2 separate regions of the Homo sapiens genome follow, and region 2 is reported to be linked to region 1. The links are microRNA targets in miRTarBase. Many come from high-throughput screens and were not tested one by one. Region 1 holds a microRNA gene; the other region holds the end of a gene's coding sequence.

Region 1 (11,198 bases):
TTCTTTTTCCAGTGTAATGGTTCTCAACTTTGGTTGAATACTGGAATTACCTGGAGAAACTTGAAAACTCTTAATCATTGGGCTCTATCCCAGACCAGTGAGATCAGAAACTAAGAGGACAGAACCTAAGCATCTGTATTCTTTAAGAGCTTCAGATAATAGCCATGAGCAAAGCTGAGAACCACTGATGATTTGAATCATTGGGAGGTGGTGTAAGAATAAAACTGTACAATCTTCTTCCTTCCTTGGATCACATCTCACCATAATGAGTTTGTGTGACTCAAGTGATTTATTTATAACATAAAAGGTCTATCTTATTATTTCAAAAAGTTTAACTATAGAATTTAACTCAAGTCGTTTAAGTCCCTCTCTTCAAGGTTATCAAATGGCTAAATGCACAATGTTGGTAACCAATTATAAAATGCATTATAGATAGTATATTTCTTTTTCCTAGAAAGTTCTTTCTGAATAGTAGCAAATGAACATTACCTGGGTATGAAAGAGGAGGTTTCCCTAACATAAATGTTACTGAAGAAAACATTAGGCCTCAATTAGCCTTTTTAACACCATTAACTATAATAATTAGCAAAAGGAAAAAAGACAGTTTTATAACCTACAGTTTCCTTCAAGAAATAGCTATTTAATAATTCATAAACAATCCATCTGCAGAAAATATAATGGTATAGATAGCAATGTCTTTACTAGGCTGCAGCACTATCATAGTGTATCAGCAAACTGCAGTTAACAGAACAAATATTTTTGGCTGTAGAGGGATAGGCTCTCCAAACACAAATTAATCTCCTTAATGGATTTTCCTTACCTTCATGAAAAATGCATTATGGGTTCTTAAGTCACACTCAACACATTGTTAGGGTTTTTTATGATGTGGGGTTGGCACAAAGATGATTTTTCTTTCACACTGTGGGTAAAAAAACAATGAGCTGGGTGGTTTGGAGCCAGACTATTTAATCACTAGGTAAGGACTGATTACCCAGAGAAGTTGCATATTCTTAAGCACCCTCTTTCTGTAAGAGATCCTTAAATTTTGTTGAGAGGTAGAAAAAAGAAATTGCATCGTGGGGCTTAACATTCGTGAAATTTTCAAAATGTCAAAAAACTGTTCCTGTGGGCCTCCTTATTAATTGTTTTGATTTTCTTAAAAGCCGACCAAAGGAAAATTGTCCTGATGCACTTGAAAATGCCTCTGCTCATGCCCAACCTTTTTCCTGTCTAAGTATTCAATGCAGTGAGGGTAACTTGGAATGCAAACAAAAGTTGACTGTGGCCAGAAAGGCACAGCACACTTCCAATATTATGTTTGTTTTGAAGCGTCTTTATATCTAAGCATTATTTTTAAGCATGTGTTTATTTCATAACGTAGATTTTTAATGTGGATGATCATTCATCTAGGACTGAATACCCAATCTAACTATGTCATATGCATTAAGTAGCTACATTAATGCTGCTTCAGGTACATCAAGACAGGCAAACGAACTTCCATTGCTGTGCCCCTTAAGGAATTTAATTAGACACTGCAAGCCATAAGAGTCTGGTAAGAATTTTCAGAGGGCAGGTGTGTGGCATTCATGATACCATCCACAGTTTTATGGTAGAACATGCCTTGCCTTTTTTTTCCAGTTTCCTCAGTTTCAGTTGTCTAAAATTGTTTCGAAACCACTGAGTTTTTATTTTCTTTTAAGCAGAGGTCAACAATCAGCCTTCAGATGGTTCAAATTAGTCAACATAGATCAGAGCTGAACCCATGCCCTAGAAGTGAACGTAACTTCTCCTGTGAGAAATCACCTGGCAGCGGGCTACAAGGTGAGAGAATCATTACAGCTGTGGAGAGGATTGCTCTTTGAAATGGCAGGAATCACACTGAGTTTGCAGCACAGGATCTTTCAGTAAATATTGCTACTACCTAGTGGTGCTCTTTCTCAGTAGATGAATTTAGGACATTGACAACCAGTGATAATCATCTCAGGGATTTACTGTATCCCAGAATTTTAGGCAAAATGTTTTCCAAATAAATCACATGAAGAAAATGTATGACCTAGATATTTAGGATTGTCAACTTGTAACTTATGTGATGATTATATTTCGTCATAAAACCAAGCGCAGAAGAGTTAGAAGGGCATTTCAAAATTTTATGAGAATTTAACTAAATAAAGGAATTGAGACAATCATATTCAAATTCAAGAGGCAATTCAAATTATGGCAGAGAACCGCTGCTGTGACTATTGTGTCTTAGAGTAATTTGTATTAGTTATATAATGTTGGAACTATTTTTTTAATTAACTGTCTGCAGCAACCTATAATTTTAGAGTTTATCATGAACTCTAAACTCATGAAAAATCTAATGTGCACTATGACCTTAATTTTCCAAACTTCACAGTTAGTAACTTTTCTAGTATAGAGGCTAAAAGTCAATGCTCCTTTTTACAGCATACTAAATAAAATATTTTACCTCTCAAACACCAGTTTAATAATTGCCTATTTCATTTTCCAAACACTTTCATTCCCAAATGAATATATTAAAATCTAGAAAACAAATAAGCCTTTTTCTTCAATTTGCTTCACTCTAATCTATTGTTAATAAAACAATAAATCATATCAAAAATTAGGTCATGTAAATCTGTTTCTTAAATTTAAGCAGAACAAACAACCAACATTTCCAGGATTCTTCATTGCATTAGTAAAAAACCGATTCTTAATACAAGAGCCTGAACAAGCTAGAACTGATGTCTGCCTCACTCATGAAGCTCTGCCACTGTTCACTCTTCAATCACAGATCACTGGCCATTACAGTAGTCTGAATAATAGTCCCCAAAGATGTCCATATCCAAATCCCAAGGACCTGTGAGTGTAATACCTTACATGTGAAAGGGATTTTGCAGATGTGATTAAGCATCTTGAGATAGGAAATTATTCTGGATTATCCAGTTGGGCCTAATATAAAAACATGCAACCTTATAAGAGAGATGGAGGAGGATTAGAGTCAGAGAGAGATGTAAACATGGAAGCAGAGATCAGAGAGAAGGTTTGATCTCTGCTGACTTTGAAGATGGAGTAAGGCACCTTGAGCCCAGGATTACAGGTGGTTTCTAGAAGCTGGAAAAGGCAGGGAGATGGATTCTCCCCTAGAGCCTTCAGAAGGAATGCAGGCCTGCTGACACCTTGATTTTAGCTCAGTAAAACAGATTTTGGACTTATGACCTGCAGAAATGTAAAATAATAAAGTTTTGTCATTTTAAGCCCCTAAATTCATGGTAAACAGTTAAAGCAGCAATAGGAAATGTAGGTAGACACACTGCTGTCTTTCATTTGCTGGCATACACAAAACTCCTGCATAACTCAGAGATTTGCTATGTCTCCGCACTCTAAGATGTGTGAAGTAGGGTCTCTATGTCTTCTTCACCCTGGTCTTCTGGATAAATGAGGCACTGAATAAATATTTGTTGAATAAATGAATGATCAGATTAGAATCTGGGAAGGCAAATGTATTTACTTGGGGAATGGTTTAGGAGAGTGACTCTTCTTGTCTTACTTAGGATTGTTAATGTATAAACAAGAAACTAGGAAGTACCCACAATATATGATTCATGCAGGCTTTTTCAGCTTTATCTCTTTTCTCTGTTTTTACACAGAATGCCCTTTACTGAAGGAATATAGAAAGGAAGTGATGAACGCAAAAGGGTATAAATCATTCACCTTTATTAGTAAGTGCTAATTAAGTCATGGATTACTTCAAACATGACCAACCCACCCATACCACGAACTGTGTTACCACCAACTGCTGAACTCTCAGGAGATTGAGTGATTATTATGCTACCATCTATATATTTGATGAGGAAAAATATTTGATATGGTTTGGCTGTGTCCCTACCCAAATCTCATCTTGAATTATAGTTCCCATAATCCCCACATGCCATGGGAGGGACCAGGTGGGAGGTAACTGAATCATGGGGTGGTTACCCTCATGCTGCTCTCTTGATAGTGAGTGAGTTCTCACGTGATCTGATTGTTTTATAAGGGGCTTTTCCCCTTTTGCTCAGCACTTCTCTCTCCTGCTGCCATGTGGAGAAGAACATGTTTGATTCCCCTTCTGCCATGATTGTAAGTTTCCTGAGGCCTTCGCAGCCATGCAGAAGTGTGAGTCAGTTAAACCTCTTTTCTTTATAAATTACCCAATCTTTGGGATTTTTTCATAGCAGTGTGTGAACAGACTAACACAATATTACAAGGAGGAATTATTTAATATTTTTTGGAAGTGTTACAAATTGATCTTAGTGTGTCATTTTTGACCAACTGACCAACTTGTGCCAAGGGTCTTTTCTTATACTTAATTCTACAAGAGTCAATTAGATTAATTACATCTGATCCAATAACATCCTATTGTTCAATTAGTTTCAGCAAACAATATTACTGCCTGTCTTATTACTTTTTTATTCAAAATTGTTCATAGCAACCTTGCTGGCAGGTACTATCAGAAGGTAATGAATTTGAGCTTATCTTATTTTGCAGACCACGTGTTAACATATCATAATATGAGCACCATATAAAAATGCATATGATGTTTTTCTGTGCAGTACATTAGGAAGACCCAAGCTTTTGGATGTTGCTTTTTTCTTAAAAAATAACTTGACATCTAATTTTCATTTGTTGTTACTTTTTAAATTATGATTTTATAGATTCATTTGGTTATTTTTAAAATGTGGGCTATATTTGCTCAAAGAAAATATTTCAATATTTAAATATATTTCAGCAATGTATAAATATAGTGAAGTTACATTATTTTGTTTAATGAGTGATACATATGCTTGGTTTAAATGTGTAGGAATTTTTTTCTTTCACAATAATGTATGAAAAATATTTCATTTCTTGAAAGGATTGCTTTTATATTGACTTGAATTTTTACAAAAATATCTGTTTTTGTCTAGCTTTAAAATCTTTTTATTTCTTAAAGTGAGACTATTTCTTATTAATGAAGTAAAAGTTAGGAATCATTTTCTCTAGATTATTTAGGAAAACTGCTATGAAATGTAAAATTCCAGAACCTCTTTTTACTTGATGTAGTTTTGCAAACAAAACAATTTTACTGAAACTTCCCACCTAAAAACAAAATGCTATGTCTTTAGATATATTCTTTCAAGAAATCACGGGGGACTTATATTGATTTCTTCATAAGGGAAAATTAATATAAATCAAAAATAAACAAGCAACCAAAAAAAACTGAAATCCAGACTTTTCTAACTAAGGAAGGTAATGATAAAGGAAAATGAATAAGTGTTTTCTTTGAATAGCTTAATGAGAGTCGCAGGAAAACAACGACCTATTTTACTATTAAAGTACTTATCTACAAAAAATTGTAATGGAAAAACTTCTGCTGAGCAGGCTAGCAATGGGTATCCCCTAGGACCCAGAACACTTAATGGGTTTTCAGTTCTGTTCTAAATGTTTTTTTTTTTTTTCTTTTTTTGCCTATTCTCAACCAGTGTTGTGCAAAATGTCAGGTTTTCTTCAACTTTCTTTTCTTCCTCCTTAGAAACTCTTGCCCTTTGTCAATTGTTTAGAGGCAGAAAAGATTACATTTCCGTACAAGAAGTCCAGATTAGTTGAAGACACTAGAATTCAAAGCCTGCAAAGATTATACCAAATGTATACGTATGCATTTTTAAACTATCTAGATTGCTCCCAACCTGTAAAATTTCAACAGACTCAAATTATATCTGTGCCTTGGAAATAAAATAGGTGATTAATTAGCCATTAAAGTAGGAGAATCAAAAGATCAGCTGATATCAGGATTAAATTGTCTTTTACCCCAAGAAGTACAATTTTAAAAAAATCTGGTTAGAGACCGATTAATCATGAAGTGACTCTTTTGGAGAAGTTTTGCTCTGAGTCTTTTAGTTTTGATAACTTCATGTCCTTGACTTTTTAAATAACACAATAAACTAGCTAACTTAAATTTTATTTTATTTATTGATATTTATATAAATATATGTCTATATAAATATGTTTATATAAATATATGTTTTATAAATATGTTTATGTAAATATAGCAAATTTATACTTGCTATCAGATTATCTGGTGCATTGCTGATTGCTCTGCCTTTCAGTGAGAGTCACTGGGGAAATTTATATCTCACCAAAAGAAAATTCTGTAATTTTGCTTCTGTTATTGATTATAAAACTGAGCAATATGAGAAACAGGAGAAAACTCAAGTCTACAAGGGACCATCAGTCACTTGGTTTGTCTGAATTAATTGTTATCTTCAGACAACCAGTTTGTGTTGCTCTAGCCTGAGTTTACTTACTAAATTTAGAAGCAGTCTCAAGCATTATTACTGCATATAAAACATAGACAGCTAATTACCCTCTGTTGAATATTTTAATATGCTCCTCTGTAATACATTTTTTAATGATAGAGAATAAATTAAATTTATATTACAGGAAGAAGGAGAATCTACACACTGGTGCTTCTTAATTGTTGCCAAAGGAAACCTAGCAAAAACTCATGGATTCAATGGGAGTATTAATAAGCCAATCAACAGATGGCTAATTGTACCACTGAAAAATGCAAATAAATTAATTCTCACTTGCTCTCATCTATTGGGAGATCAAAGTAGAATTATTAGTTTCCATCTCAATATATTTATATAATTTATACACCAAGATATTTTAGTGAAATAATCTGAAGTAGTAAAAGAGTATAAAGGATTATTCTAACATTTTGATACCACAAAGCATCTCCATTTTGGTATAGTTCTAACACCATCTTATAGTATTAAACTTGAAATTCAGAGCAATTAAATCTTTGTTTTATTAGCTTATTTGTATCAGGCAGGTTACAACGGCATGCTATAGTAGCAAATCATTCCAAGATCTCAATGGCTTAAACAAGGAAGGTTTCTTTGTCACTCATGTTCATGCCCATTGCAGCTCTGCTCCACATCCTCATCATTCCAATACCCCATTGGAAGGGGGAAATCTCTACTAAAGTGGTTCTGATGGCAGAAAGAAAGTAATGACGGAGGATCTAGAGGATGCTCTGAAAATATTTGCTCAGAAGTGTCACATATTACTTCCATACACATTTAACTAGCTAAAGAAATTCACATGGCCAAACTTGATGTCAGTGTGATGAGAAGTAACATTTCCCTACAGGAATAGTTTGTGCAAGAACATATAGCAAAAATCTGTATTATAATGTGGTCAATTCTTTAAGCATTTTTCTAAAACCGATTTATAAAACTTTTCCCCCAGTCCTGAAATAAAGTTCATAAGAAGCTCAGAAAAATTTTGAGTAAATACAGCAAAAAATTAGAAAATATTACAGTAGGTTATGAAAAAATACTGTCATATATTTATGTCCCTTAATCTGGCTTAAAGTCATAAGAAACTGACATTATCATTCTAATACTCTCCATAAGATTGAGGTAAGAATAGGTATTTTTGTTAGACTATTACTCTGCTTACAGCTCTGGTCTAATACTTACATGACTACATTTAGAAGAGTTTAATGAGCATCAGTTCACTTCCTATTCTGATTTTTTTTTACTCAGTCACATTGATAAATACATGGATAAATTATATAAATAAGTGTATTTAATTTTGAATAAATGAATGAAAAGTTTTAGAAATGGGGAAATGGTATAGTTGCCCCAAAATTGTACATAAATAGGTAAGAATAAGAAATGTCTGTATTAAACCCATGTTTTAATCCTAGGATGGACTCCTTTAGAATCATTGGCAATATTTTAAGAGCATCTCACTGTTTACTAAATACCAAAGCAGTGTTAGCACAAAAAGACATTGCTCCAACTATGAAGTCATCCATACAGCCTGCAAATTTGTCACTCAACACAATGAAGACTAGGAACGAAGCTCCAAAATAGAGAACTAGGGCTGGCAACCGGCTATTGCTAAAGTTAGGACGTGGCTCCAGGAGCTCATTCCCAGTGCCTGAAGGAAATGTTTTTGAGTCTTTAAACTCAGAAGAAAAAGAGTAAAATGTACATGTGTTTTAACTGATATGTCATTTGCAACAAAGTTTAATACTTGAGTAAATCTTCGTCTCTGTATCATATCCTATCTCTATCTGCTTTATTTCTTGTTTGAGGATACTAGACTCTAATGATCCATAGTCCCTAGCCAAAAAGAGAGAGAGAGAAATACAGTAATTACACTTCAAAATATATTCTTCCTTTTGTATTTTGGGACTAGAAATCCAAAATAGGAAAATGTAATGTATTACTTTGAAGCAACTTCTAATTTGATGTCTTAAATTATTGTCTCTTCAACTAAGAAATAATTTAAATAGCCTTCAGACAGATTTGGAAGAAAGAATCTACACATGCAAGAATTGAGTGCTGAAAATAAGGCACCTGTGACTTAATTTTAAATCTATTTGTATTTTGCTTTACTGGCTACGTATGTGCTTTCATGTATTCTATATAACTATGCCTCTCAATCTTCGGGAGGATTGAAGGCACAGTAATTCAGAAAACTGAACAACTTACTGTAGTGGCAAAGAACTTTTTAAAGGAAGATGAGAATAACACAGAAATTCAAGGTGAGGGCTTACTCTAACCCTAGCCAAGAGAGCACACCTTCAGCCTCTCGAGTCCACACATAGAACACATACACACACACAACACCCCCCCCACACACACAAAACACACCCACACAGAACACACACAGAACACACACACACAGAACACACACACACAGAACACACACACATAACACACACCCACACAGAACACACACAAAACAGAGACGCTTCAACAGTAGAAGCTCTGACATTTTTTGTTAATGTGTTTTAGATATTGTGTTTCAAATGCCATTTGAACCAAGTGTTCTCTTTTTTCTTTCCTGTCAGTGGGTTTTTCAGGTGTAGTTATAATTATTTTGAAATGTCAAAGGACTAAACTATGCTCAGTAGGAAATAAGAATAAAAGAAATAAACACAATAATTCCATGTGCAATCAAATAATGAAGGAAGAAAGGAGAATTGTAGTATAATATTTTACTATCATTATAAGAATTAACAGAAGATAAATGCTTCTTTGTATCAAAAAAAATTCAGCTTCCACTGATGTTAGTATAAGATGATGACTTTTTAGATTATCAGCTTTGGGCACAAGAAAGTTTAGGATTTTATAACAATATAGCTCTCTAAATAAGCTACACTGTGTAATAAACTGACTTCTTTTTAAGCATTCTATTATTCGCAATGAAAATAGATAAGCAATAATAATATATGCACATTATTCCCCTTCACAGGAGCAATCATTCTCCCAGAGACCATATGATGATTTATAAACCTGGCACATGATAAAGATAATAAATTGACTGCTCTAGAAATCACTGTGTTAACTGAACTGCCTTGTCATTTCTGCCTTAAGTGCAGCTTTTCTAGCTGCAAATGGCAAGGGAAAATAATCAATACAAGAGAAATCTTAGCTTTAAAAAGGTAAAACAATGCAAACGCAATGCCTTTCTGAAAAGAATGTACTTTCAATTAGAAATACTTGAAAATTTGAATTCATTACCTCAAGTCCAGTGACCAATATGTCTCAGGTACTCATATTATACTCTAAATATAAATTCCTGAGCTTGTCCATTTAGAACCTTATATATGAACTGTCTTTGACACTCATATGATATCAGAAAGGTCTTTCAAATTCATTTGCCTCTTCTCTGGAGTAAAGTTCTTATACTGTTATACCAAGGGTATTAAGGGATTAGTCTGGTATCTTTCCAATTCATTTGACTAGAGATCAAATCAGATTCTACTAGTCTGAAAATAGAATCCCTGGCCTCAGGATTAAAATCATTACAGGTGCTTACTAAATGTCTCAAGAAAAATGATCAGCTTCATCCTCCTCATTGCTAATGGAGCTGATTATGTGGAAGGCATATTACGTTTTAAGAACTTCATGTAAATCAGTCCATTTAATCTTCATACCACCCTATGAGGTTGATATTATCATCATCGTTATGCTCATGAAGGAATAGCAAATAGAATGTAATGACATAAGCATATTGATTCAGAATCCACACTCTAAGTAAAGAGAAGTGGAGGATAAGAGCCAGATATAGAAGACATGTTGTGGGAAGACATAGCAAAAATATAACATGGTATACATTGTAGGCAAAAGTTAAAGGACCTAGTAAGCAAGAGAAAACTGTGACAGCTTTAAAGTTATTGATGTACTTAGTAGAAAAGTTGACTGAACTCAGAGACCAGAGTTTAAATTCCAGTTCTACTCTTCATTTGTTACATGACTTTGAATAAGACCCTAAACTTCTTCATATGCAAATCATATAGTAAAATTATTACTTCTTATGGTTCTGAGACTTAAACAAAACCAACTAATTGAGTTAAGTAGAATAGTGTACATAAGATGCTTAGCATGGTCTGAGTATTTTCTCTATACACTGCTTTCTGATGTCTGATATGGTTTGGCTACGTACTCATCCAATTCTCATCTTGAATTGTAGCTCCCATAATTCCCACGTGTTGTGGAAGGGACCCAGTGGGAGGTAATTGAATCATGAGGGCATGTCTTTCCTGTGTTGTTCTCATGATAGTGAATAAGTCTCGCAAGATCTGATGGTTTTATAAAGGGGAGTTCTCCTGCACATGCTCTCTTCTGCCTACCAGAATGTCCCTTTGCCCTTCCCTCGTCTTCTGCCATGATTGTGGGGCCTCCCTAGCCCTGTGGAACTGTAAGTCCATTAAACCTCTTTCCTCTATAAATTACCAAGTCTCAGGTATGTCTTTATTAGCCTCATGAGAACGAACTAATACAATGTCATATTTTCTTTATAGCTTCTTTAATATTGGTTCCTAATTTTTAATAACATGCACTATTGCCTGATTAACATTCCATTATTTTGTGTATGATCATTCCTGGCTCAATATTCCTTAAATGCCTGAAGTTTAACATCAAAGATATCACTTTGGCATTCCACCTTTTTCACATTTTATTGTGATATAGCAGAAAGAACACTGCATGTGGGGTTAGTGATTATATTCAAAGGAAAGCATTAAGAACTTCACCAGCTATTCACCGTTACTTTGTGACTTTGAGTAAGTCTCTTTTCATTTATGTTTTCCTTTCTCTAAAATGTGTTAATTACTTTTCTGTAATCAACCTCACAGATGTAACGTAATGTTCAAATTAGAT
Region 2 (11,084 bases), not on the chromosome of region 1:
AGAGACTGGTTAGCGTGATTGATACCAAATCCAATGCCCCAGTCCCAGTGTCCCTCTGGCTGCTGAATCCTGCAGATGCTTACATCCAAGTTGAGCCCACCTGCCTGTAGATACAAATAGCCAGTCCTGTGGCTGTCCACTTCTCTTTCCAGAGCTCCCAGGCAGCCATCCTAGTGGTGAAGCTTGTTCTTGGCACAGACCTACCAAAAGAACACATACCCAGAGACAGAACCAAAAGGAAGCCCACGGCTCAGCCCAGAATGCCCCAAGCCAGTGATCTCCCACCCCTCTGTGGGTTCCTCTCAAACAGTCTTAAATCCCATTGAACTGTTCCTCAAATACTCTCCCCTGCAATGGCAAGAGAGACCCCAAGGTAGAAGCATAAACAAGCATGCAAAGTGAGGCAAGAGAGACCCCAAGGTAGAAGCATAAACAAGCATGCAAAGTGAGGCAAGAGACACCCCAGGTCACATCCTTAAGCGGGTATAGGGAGAGCAACCGTGTTTCCATGTGTAACTGGGCAGCTTAACTTCAAAATGCATTTCAAACTTTTTTCCCTTTCTCTTGGGTTTCAAGACACAATCTTGAGGGAAACTGCAAAAGCCTTTTTCCTTAGCCTCAAAATAGACTCCATGCCCCTCCCTTTCCCACCATCCATACTCTCTTTACGTTTGTCTAACTGTATGTTAGTATCTAATTGTGTGCCTTCTTAGAAGTTCCAGGGGCTGATCTTGAAACAGACCAAGTCTGGAGACCCAGTTGCAAAGTTTCAGGGATGACCTCAAGGCGGCTGATGAACAGCCCGGCCATTATGGAGATGATGTCAGCCCGAGGTCCAGGTGGACTGGGACCTGACGCAGCCACCAAAACAAGACACACAGACATTATGCTCAGCCCAAGTCTTCCATGCCTTCCTTATCAAGTTTTTCTTTTTTAAACTCTTGCCTTCCTGCTAAAAATTGAAGTGGTTAATTTGGACAGGAATTCGGCTGCCTCCCCTCTACTAGTTTGGGTAATAAATTCACTTTCTTTCTATCAGATGTCACTCTTGTTAGTTGGGCTCGGCCAGCAGTGAGCGTCCAGACCTGCTTTGTTGGGTCACACGTGCAGCACCCAGAGGGGTCTGAGTGTGAGCAACAGAGCTCTGTGTTCAGGCTCTGTCCACAATACCCCACACCCTTCCCGCAGAGGGGTCCTTACACCCAGGGTGGTGGTGCTGCCTTTCTTCAGGAGCATGGACTGGGTTAGAAGCTCATGGGCCTGGACGCAGATCCTGAACATTGGGGCAGGGAGTTCCTAGACCCTGTTACCTGTATTAGGGTCTGGGGAGGAAGAGAGCAAGGGCTCAGGTGATCACAGCCCTTGGACCCACTGACTCGCTGTCCTGCGGGCAGGGGAGCAACCAGAGAGGGCAAGGGTCCCTGAGTGCATGGGTCGAAGTGTGGTGCTGGTGTGTCTGGGGTCCTGTGGCTACTTGCAACTCAGCAACACACACACCTGCAGTGCGACATGCCTAGGGCCTGCCACACATTCAAGGTCTGGCTCAATGTAAAGGTACAGGTTCTACCAGCATAATCACTGCTGAGCACAACACATGATCTTGTGGGACCCTATCCACTTAAGACAGGGCCACAACTGTCAGCTGCACACCATCTCCTTAGGGTGTGACAGCAAAGATGACCTACTAAGGAACGTTGTCTGCTGCTGCCTGGTGGTCCCAGGCTCATTGTCCTCTAAGACTCATGCTGGCATCGCTTCTCAATAGCCCTCAGCCCCAGGAGACCCCCGCTCTGTGCCTCCCGATGCCCAGGCAGACTCTGCTGTCATGGCAGAGCTTTCTGTGCTCTCAGCCACGCCCCTCACTTGCCTACGAGGAGCCATGTCTGGCTACAGCTGTGGCCCTAACACCCGTCTATCCATTCAATAAGTAAATAGCGAGCTCCTACCTCTGTTGGGCGTGATTCTAAGCACTTGGAGTGCACCAGGGAACAAAACAGGGCCCCCTGGTCCCATGAAGCTTCCAAGGGAAATTCGAGGCACCAGCTAGCTCTAAGAATTAAGTAGGCAACTTGGTGAGCAAGAAGGTAATAGCAGCCTAAGCTAGTAGCCAGGAAGTTAGCCATGAGATATTTGGTTCCCTATAGAAACTGAGATACCATCTTAACATATGTCTGAGTTTTTTAGAAACCCGGACCCCCACCCAACAAATCACTGGCACGTGTATCTCAGATAAGGGAACTGGGGACTGAAGTCTGGACTTCATTCTTTGTTCTAAGTTTTTTCCTGAGGGGCCTGGAGGGAGCCACACCCATGAGCCTGAGATAATATTCTTTTCTACGGACCCCAAAGTTGGAAACAAAGCTTCTCTTCCTTAACCAATTGCAAATCAGAACATCTTTGAACCTACCTGTAAGCCCCACCCCTCCTTCACAATATCCCACCCTTCAAGGCCAAAACCAATGTGTAATCTCTATGTATTGATTCATGATTATGCCTGTAGCTTCCACTTTCCTGAAATGTACCCCACCTCTAAAAACCCTTACCCACAAGCCATCAGGGGAGTCAGGATTTGAGCATTTGCTTCCTGGTCCTCCCTGCATGGTGCCCTGCAAATAAATGGCTTCCTTTCTACTGCTGCGAAGCCTCAGTGTGGATATCTGGTCTTACTGTGCTGAGCAGGCAGACCCAAGTTGTGTAACAGTATGGGAGTAAGGAAACCTTTTCCAACGACCTGGTCTCAAAAAGTGAACCACCCATGCATCTTCTTTAGGAAGCTTTGGCAGGATGTGCTCCAGCAGAGCAAAGGAATAAAGCACAAAGACCAAGATGCGGGACACAGGGAACAGAAAACTCAACACAGGAAGAGCAAGGATGATGATAGACATCAGAGGGCAGCTGGAGGGTGGAGGATTCCAGGAGGGAGCTTGGCAGGGGGCAAGGGCTACTATGAGTTATCTGATGCTTCTGTTGAAAAACTTTATTGACAGGTATTTGGCAGATGCCTGTGCACTGTATAAAAATCCAATACAAAATAATCAAATAGAAAATAAACAACTAAAAAAAGGCAATTTTTAATAAATGGAGATAAAAGTTAAAAAAAGGAATACAGCATTTGCTTATTTATATATATTTATTTCACTAACATATATATTGTCAATAATAATGTAAAGACTGATGATTGCGCTAATTGTATAGGGAACAGTGAGAAGTAGGGTAGATTGATGATTATATGAGAGCATTCTTATCTATCAAAATGGCAAAGAGATTAGATAATATCTGATTTATTAGCAAAGAAATAGCAATATAAGCACATTAAAAAATATTGGCTAGGTGCAGTGGCTCACGCCTGTAATCCCAGCATTTTGGGGTCCACCCAGCAGGTGGGTGGATCTCTTGAGCCTAGGAGTTTGAGGCTAGCCTGGCAACACAGTGAGACCCCATCTCTTCTAAAAATACAAAAAATTAGCTGAGCGTAGTGGCACACACATGTATTCCCAGCTACTTGAGAGGCTGAGGTGGGAGAATCGCCTGAGCCTGGGAAGTCGAGGTTACAGTGAATCGTGATTGCACCACTGCACTCCAGCCTGGGCAACAGAGTGAGACCCTGTCTCAAAAAACAAAACAAAACAAAAAAAGAAAGGAAGAGAAAGGAAAATGAAATATGGAGGGAAACAGAAGAAACTGCTTAAGAAATGGAAATTTGTTTCCTATAGAGAGCAGGACCCATGGATCAAAAGGCAGGAGAGTGCTGTTTTTCATTATTACTGTAGTTTTTAAAGTATCATTTGACTAATTATATGCATGCATTGTTTTATTAAAAACGAGGTTAAAATTTCAAATGAATGGGATACTAAAAGCTTATACCCTATTTGACCATGTTTCTGATAACCGCAGGTAACAAAAGGACAACTGTGACCAAGGAAAAGGCTGGGGGGTGGCGGGCAGACAGAGGAAGGTGGGGGCAGCAGCAAGGGCTAGCAGAGGGACACTGCCAGGAAGTGAGAACTTGGGGCAACAGGTGGCCCTGAGTATGGGTAGAAATATCTGACCCCACCCAGGGCTGTGACCGAGGTCGGACGGAAGTGCAGGGAAAGACCAGCAGACCGCGGGAACTCGCTCGTAAAGCACTTTGTTTACTTCCTGCTGTCTGGAATTTCAGAGTGAAGTCCAGTGGGACCTCTGGCCTGGCCACCTGTCCGCACAACACACGGGGCCCAGGAGGCTTTCCCTGGCATCATTTGCAAGGAGGCATCATTTGCATTCACCTTCCATTTGTCTGACCTCAGAGGTGGGACCCTCTGCTTCCTTCACATACTTGATAGTGGATGGCCAGGGGCAACTTCCAAAATTCCTGGCCTCCCTGGCTCTTTCAACAGGCAACTGAAGCTCAAATTCAGTTCTTCTCAGGGCTGCAGGGCGAACACTCTGGACACCACAGCCAGAGCTGCACTAAGCGGCTGCACTCACTGAGCCGGCCCTCCGAAGGGTGCTACAATATGGATCTGATCACAGCTCAAATTCCACCAGGTAGTGACCTTGGACAAGTAACCTGACCCCCTCCCAGTCTCTGTGTCATCATCTGAAAGGAAGAGAGAATATCCCACATTTGCAGATCTTTGGTGAGAAACAAATTACGGATCTAAATGCTCAATAATTGTTTGACCCTTCCCCCTGTCTGCTTATACCAAGTAAGCATCCACCATAAAATCCAGGCAGCCAGGTGTATTAGTCTCCTTTTGCCGCTGTAACAAATGACAAGCTTAGTGGCTTAACACCAATTTTTAATCTTACAGGGCAGGAGGTCAGAAGTCTAAAATGACTTTCACTGGGCTAAAATCATGGCCTGTGTTCTTTCTGGAGACTCCAGGGGAGAATCCGTTTCCTTGGCTTTTCCAGCTCTAGAGACTGCCTGCGATCTTTGGCCTGTGGCCCCTTCCGCCCTCTTCAGAGTACATCACTCCAACCTCTGCTTCCCTCCTGCCCAGGACACCTGTGATTACATTAAGCCCACCCAGGTGATCCAAGACAATCTCTCTATCTCAAGATCCTGAACTTAAACACAGCTTAAACTTACCCCAGGTAACACAGTCACACATTCCAGGGATTAGGACATGGACATCCCACCACACTTTGTACGAAGTGCACCTGAACTGAAGTAACTTAGTCAGGTGTAACTGACACTGCCCCTTGCCCTCTGCTCTCCCAAGAATCATTTTAAGGAGACTTTACTAAGGAATCATGGAAAAAAGTTAAAAAACAACTTAAAGGCCAGGCGCGGTGGCTCATGCCTGTAATCCCAGGGCTTTGGGAGGCCCAGGCGGGTGGATCACGAGGTCAGGAGTTTGAGACCAGCCTAGCCAACATGGTGAAACCCCGTCTCTACTAAAAATACAAAAAATTAGCTGGGCATGGTGGCAGGTGCCTGTAATCCCAGCTACTCAGGAGGCTGAGGCAGGAGAATAGCTTGAACTCAGGAGGCAGAGGCTGCAGTGAGCCGAGACCGCGCCATTGCACTCCAGCCTGGGTAACAGAGAGAGACTCCATCTCAAAAACAAACAAAAAACAAAAGAATTTAAGAAGCCAGAATAACAGGAAGTGTGCTGCTAGTTTCCCAGGATTACAATTTACTTGTAAATGTACTGAAGAACTCTGAAGTTCTCCTTGAGATTTGAAATATTTTAATACCTATGTCAGACTCTGACAGCACCCTAACGCCCCCAAGATCAGGGCAAGGGGTGAGGGGTATCTGACACCCAGCTGAAGTCTCAGCCTCTGCCCAGCCTGGGTCTGGAGCCAGAAGAGGTCCCCATAGACTCGGGCTCAGCATGGCCTCCCCAGGAAGGTTGCTTCATCGGTGGTGGTGATGATCAAAGCTGATAGCTTGCTCAGGACTAGTGAAGACACATCAATAATCTGGAAATACTTTCCATATTTGCTCACCAAATTTCCTAGGAACCGGCGAACATTTCTACCTCCTTTTTCTGGCAAAACGAATCCCTGTGAAAATGGCTAATGAGGTACAGTAGAACCCAGTGTCACAATCCTTGCTACTGCTAAATTAGAATTAGCTCAAGGTTAAACTGCATTCTTTGAAGCATAACTCAACACAATAACTGTCTAACATATCGGTTCAGAAAAGACTCTCCACTTTGGTATGAAATAGAAGCAGTATTTTTAAAAATAAAACTCGGTGGCAGTAAGTCAAACTATAATCGTAGGAAAGATACTTTACAGGGAATTCTTTCTGGCTGAAGGCCCTGCCGTCCCCTAGGGCTGCTGGGCAGTCCACTGATAGATCATCACAAGGATTAGATCTGTCCTTTGCCTTCAACAATGAGTCTCTATGTTCCAGGGGCAACCAAACATGAACGATGTTGTGTTCATCAGCCTGTCCTTCTCTGCTCCCTTAAACCCTCCGAACGGTGGTGGATACCACAGCGCGGTACCAAGTCCAGGTGTAATCCAACATTAACTGTCAAGGTCAACTTACAGTGAGAGCTCATTATGAGCCATGGTCTCGACAGGGTGCTGTCATCTAAGCTTGTAACACGCCTGAGGTCGGTGGCATCTGCTATTTGCCCACTTAAGCAGGAAGGGAGGTTACTAAGTCGTCTGAGGTCAGTAGCACACCCAGCAAGTGCTGGGATGCAAACCCAGGGAGGGTGACTTGAGTCCCGGCTCTTAGCTACTGCGGTGTTGCGAGGCTGTAACCTGTAATAGCCTAACATTTCTTGTGACTAATCCAAAAGGAATGAAGAAAGGAAATTCTTCACTCTTTTCTAAATGTATTTTTTGGGGCACTCTGTATGCTGGCCAGAGGGGATCTGAATAAAGCCAAGTAACAGGCAGTTAGGTCCTGGAGTGATGAACAAAGAACAGGGCTGTAGAGTGGATTAAAGGGTCTGTTCCGTCTGGGGTCAGGGAAGGCTTTCTGGGATAGGAGAGACTTCACTGTGACACAACCGGGTGCCCCGGGAGGTTCACAAGGAGGAGAATAACATGGCTATTCTGACTGAATCCAGGATAGGGATCTTTGAGGTGAGGTGCACCTTCAGTGGCATCTCTGCCCTAAGGGAGACTCTGCCCTCAGCTCACCTGCACTGGGCTCCCAGGGCAACCGCCAAGAAAACAATGCTCCCCTCACGCAAAATGCCCACATAGCTTTCAGACCTAAAGTGATGCTACTCTCAGGAAATAAGACAGGAATGTGGCTTTACAAGAGTCCACCTGGTCACCCCATGCGTCTCTGTAAGCCCCTGGACCTTAAAATGGCTTTTCTCTTCACCATTCCTCTGCTCTGCTTCATAGTAGCTATTATATGGTTCTTAGGCACAATTTAAAGCTGCTTTTTAGATTTACTAAACAATTCTTAAGTGGAATGTTAAATTTTTAAAACAATCAGTGTTTTGTGTGGCCATCCCCTAATATATATCTTTTCCTGTCGGTGGCTCTCAGGAACCCACATGAAAGCTTTCTCACCTCACATTTAAATTTGTTTCTGCTGGGCGCAGTGGCTCATGCCTGTAATCTTAACACTTTGGGAGGCCAGAGTGGGAGGATCGCTTGAGCCAGGAGTTCAAGACCAGCTTGGGCAACACAGAGACCCTGTCTCTAAAAAATAAAAAAATTAGCCAGGTGTTGTGGTGCACATCTGAAGTCTCAGCTATTCAGGAGGCTGAGTGGGAAGGATTGCTTAAGCCCAGGAGGTCAAGGCTGCAGTGAGCCATAATCAGGCCACTGCACGCCAGCATGGGCAACAGAGCAAGACCCTTTTTCAATCAATCAATCAATCAATCAATCAATCAATCTGCACCAATGAAACCTTGCCGACACAAGTCATTCCTCTACCCTTAGCACAGTCCCTCCTGTCACAAACAAGGGACCTGATTTCTCAAAATATAATTTATGTCAAAATATCTAAGTAAACCTAACAAATGTAACAAGAATTCTCTCTTAAGCTGGCTGCTATGGCTTGAAAAGTTAAAGGAAAGCTTCGGTTCCCAGATTCTACACAAGTGAATTAAACACTGCCAACAAAACGAAACCCAACTTAAAAGTTATCTTCTGTCCTAAGATATCTCTAAAACTCATAGCTTAATGAAGCAGAATGCCATTTATGTAACTACCAATCCATGAAAAAAATAAAAACTACCTGAAATCATAAAATGTTTAATCTTCTAAAATAACTTGATTTCTAAGGGTCTAATCACACAGACCCTGAAGCTATGACAAATATCCAATATAATCACACTAATACAGGCCTAATGTATTTTAAATAGGTGCATTTAAACCCGAGAAGCAGTCCTTGCATTTTAAATAGGTGCGTGATACTGCTGTTTGCACAAGGAACCTCTGTGTCTCTGCTCTAATTCTCACAGTGAATTCTAATTATGCAGACCATCAAAATTATTCAGACTTACACTAGATAGCATCTTCAATTTTCTACTTGGTAGAGATTTGTTAGGCATATAGAAAAAAATTATTAATTAACTCTGAGAAAGAAGACTTACATTCCTCGTAGAGCCCAGTGATTCCTTCAACTTATAAGTTCCCTAGTGACTTTGATATGATCTCACTATGACTCATAAGCATGAGTCAAATTATTCACTTGGCAGCCTTTTCCTAGCTCCAATCATATTCTAGAGAGGTTTCTTACATTGATGCTTCCCATCAATAAGTTTCTCATCATTTCGCTTTTCAGATGAAACCTAAGGGCACACAGGCAGATTCAAGGAAAAGCCAAAAGAAGCAAAATTGTGAAAACGTATCACACTCCTCACTAGATGTGATGGCAAGGGACAATTTTGCAGACCCGGCCTCTGGTCCACGGCCTGTATCCATCCAGAGGCAGTATGAAGTGACTTATTCATGGTGACTCTGTCTACAGGGCAAGGTAGATCCTTCTAGTGCTCCTGCTTCCCTCATTTCTAAACCAAATGGCTCAAATGGATGTGTTTTAACCTCCTCTTAGATCCTAAGGTCCCTTAGCTTACAGAAGACATAAAGGTATCATGGGATGTAGCAGACAATTAATGTAATAACCTTTTTCTGAGAATAATCTATTTTTCTTTTCTCTAACACGGTGAGGTGGGTGACTGCTGAGGAGCAGTGCTCTAATCTGATGGGGCAGTCCCCAGGGTGGGGGCGTGGGGCTACAGCTTTCCTTCCCCTTCCAAAACCTCTGGGGAAGGGGAGCAGGGGCAACTCCATCAGTTCTAGCCTGACCTCATGGAGGAAGTCTGTTTTTAGAGTATTCTCGAGAGGAACTCAAGGAGATTAAATAAGCAACGAAGAACAAGCCTCTAGAATAGCTCTGGGGAAAAGAGCCGTTCTGTCCTTTTTGCCCTTATTATGAGAAAATGCATCCTTCTTCCCACCTCTGCCACCGTAAAGATATGTTTCTAGACAAGCGCTCTCTTTAAGTCCCTGGAGATGAACAAAGCCTCCATGCCACACCAGGCGGGCTTCCTTCCCATGGGCCTCTGCACAGCCCCAGGCTCTACCAGGCCCCAGTCTCGGGATGCAGAACTCATGGAAAGGTCTTATAAAGACACCAGACACTGGGAGAATCTCTGCCACAATTCCAAATTATGTCCTCTTTTAGAAAGTCCCCACTTTTTAAGAAGTAAAATACTCATTAAATCCCCTAGCTCGGTGGACTGTTGACGATGTCTCCCTATCTAACTGTAGCAGTGTGCCAAGCACAGGGCTCCAGAGATAGGCAGGTGGGGCCGCCTCCTCCGGCCTCACCCACCTCTGCTCCCTCCAGCCCACCCACGCCTCCAGCTGCACAGTTGACTCACCATCCAAACAGCTGCTTCCCCCAGAAAGTAGACCAGGGCTCGACGGCAATTCTTGTGGCAAATTTAATAGAAGAATATGAGACTCACCCTTACTTCCCACACATAAAACACTGCAGGCACTCCAAATCCTTACAGACATATGCACTTCGGAATCAACTCAGGCATGCACAGCATCCCTGTGCTGGAGTTTATTTTAAAAAACAACGCCCCAGTTATCACAGTTTCTTTTTTTGTTCACCATTTTCCATAACAAAAGAAGCTACACAAAATTTGGGGGGAGATACTCTCTTTGGAGACTGACACATTTGCAGAGGGGTCATGAATAATGATTCCAAAGCTCCTATTTAACTTCTGAATCAGGCAAAGAATAAGTGACAATATAAGAATGAATTTTGTTTACAGCAATATCATAATACAGCATTGAATCATTACAGTGCAGTGGTTGTAATTAAGTCCACAATAAAATATTCTTAGCCCGAACACCAGACCAACTAAAATCACCAACTGCTCACGAACCAAAATGATCAGTGCAAGCAGTTGCGGTCTCAATAGTGAAAACCAAAATGGGTAAGGCTTTTCTGGCAGTGAGTCTCTGACATGAACGGCTCCCTCTCTGCTCAGCGAGGACTTGGCCGCCCTCACTTGGAGTCTTGGTCTTTCTTTTCATCTAAAAGGGCGGAGTGGATCCCCAGCTTTTTCAGTTCTTCCACCAAGTCCCCATTCTGGTGCATCTGCAGAAGAATGTCACAGCCCCCTACAAACTCGCCATTGAGGTACACTTGCGGGATGGTGGGCCAGTTGGAATAGTCTTTAATGCCTATGGAGAAAGAACATTTATTTGTTATTTAAATGGTAAAAGCTGAACCATTCATGACTAAATATGTAATTTTGACCCACTAGTAGCAGACAACCCACTGTCCCTCCCTGGCTTCCCCCAATCTTGAGAACACTGTGCTTGCCACTAAGAGCATGAGTTTTTGTGTCAAAGAGACCAGTGGTTAGGCCCTGACTCTTCCAATTACAAACCGTCAGCCCTCAGACAAGTCACCTGACCTCTCATCCTGTTTCCACCCTCATCTCCCAAGGTTTTTTTTTTTGTGAGAATTAGGTAAGCAAGATTCTCAGTAAAATACCTGATACATTGCGGACCTTAGATTAATGGCAGAGGACTGGACTGGGTAATGCAAGTCACATAAGATACATAAGGCCAAAATTCTCCATCTACCAGTCAAGCTTCAAGCGAAACAAAACTTGAAGAAATGTCACAACCAACTTCATTTC

The links. Region 1 holds the annotated microRNA hsa-miR-2054 (CUGUAAUAUAAAUUUAAUUUAUU, at 6,431-6,453, opposite strand). A microRNA usually pairs through its seed, bases 2 to 8, with sites in the 3' UTR of a target mRNA and lowers its output. Matches are read on the target gene's strand: a 7mer-m8 pairs with bases 2 to 8, a 7mer-A1 pairs with bases 2 to 7 and ends in A, and an 8mer does both.
Region 2: miRTarBase lists GLRX5 as a target of hsa-miR-2054. Seed matches in the 3' UTR shown: 7mer-A1 at 10,246-10,252.

What each region holds. Positions count from the first base shown.
Region 1 is chr4:125,502,514-125,513,711 of GRCh38, reverse strand. MIR2054 (microRNA 2054) reads right to left here and starts at 6,453; the gene lies at 6,405-6,453.
Region 2 is chr14:95,543,483-95,554,566 of GRCh38, reverse strand. It overlaps GLRX5 (glutaredoxin 5), which reads right to left. Exons shown (of 2, transcript NM_016417.3): 2 at 9,853-10,620. The coding sequence ends at 10,442. Among named protein-coding and RNA genes, the nearest start is that of GLRX5, 14 kb to the right of the region's middle. RefSeq lists an enhancer at 5,909-6,784 and a cis regulatory region at 8,458-8,748.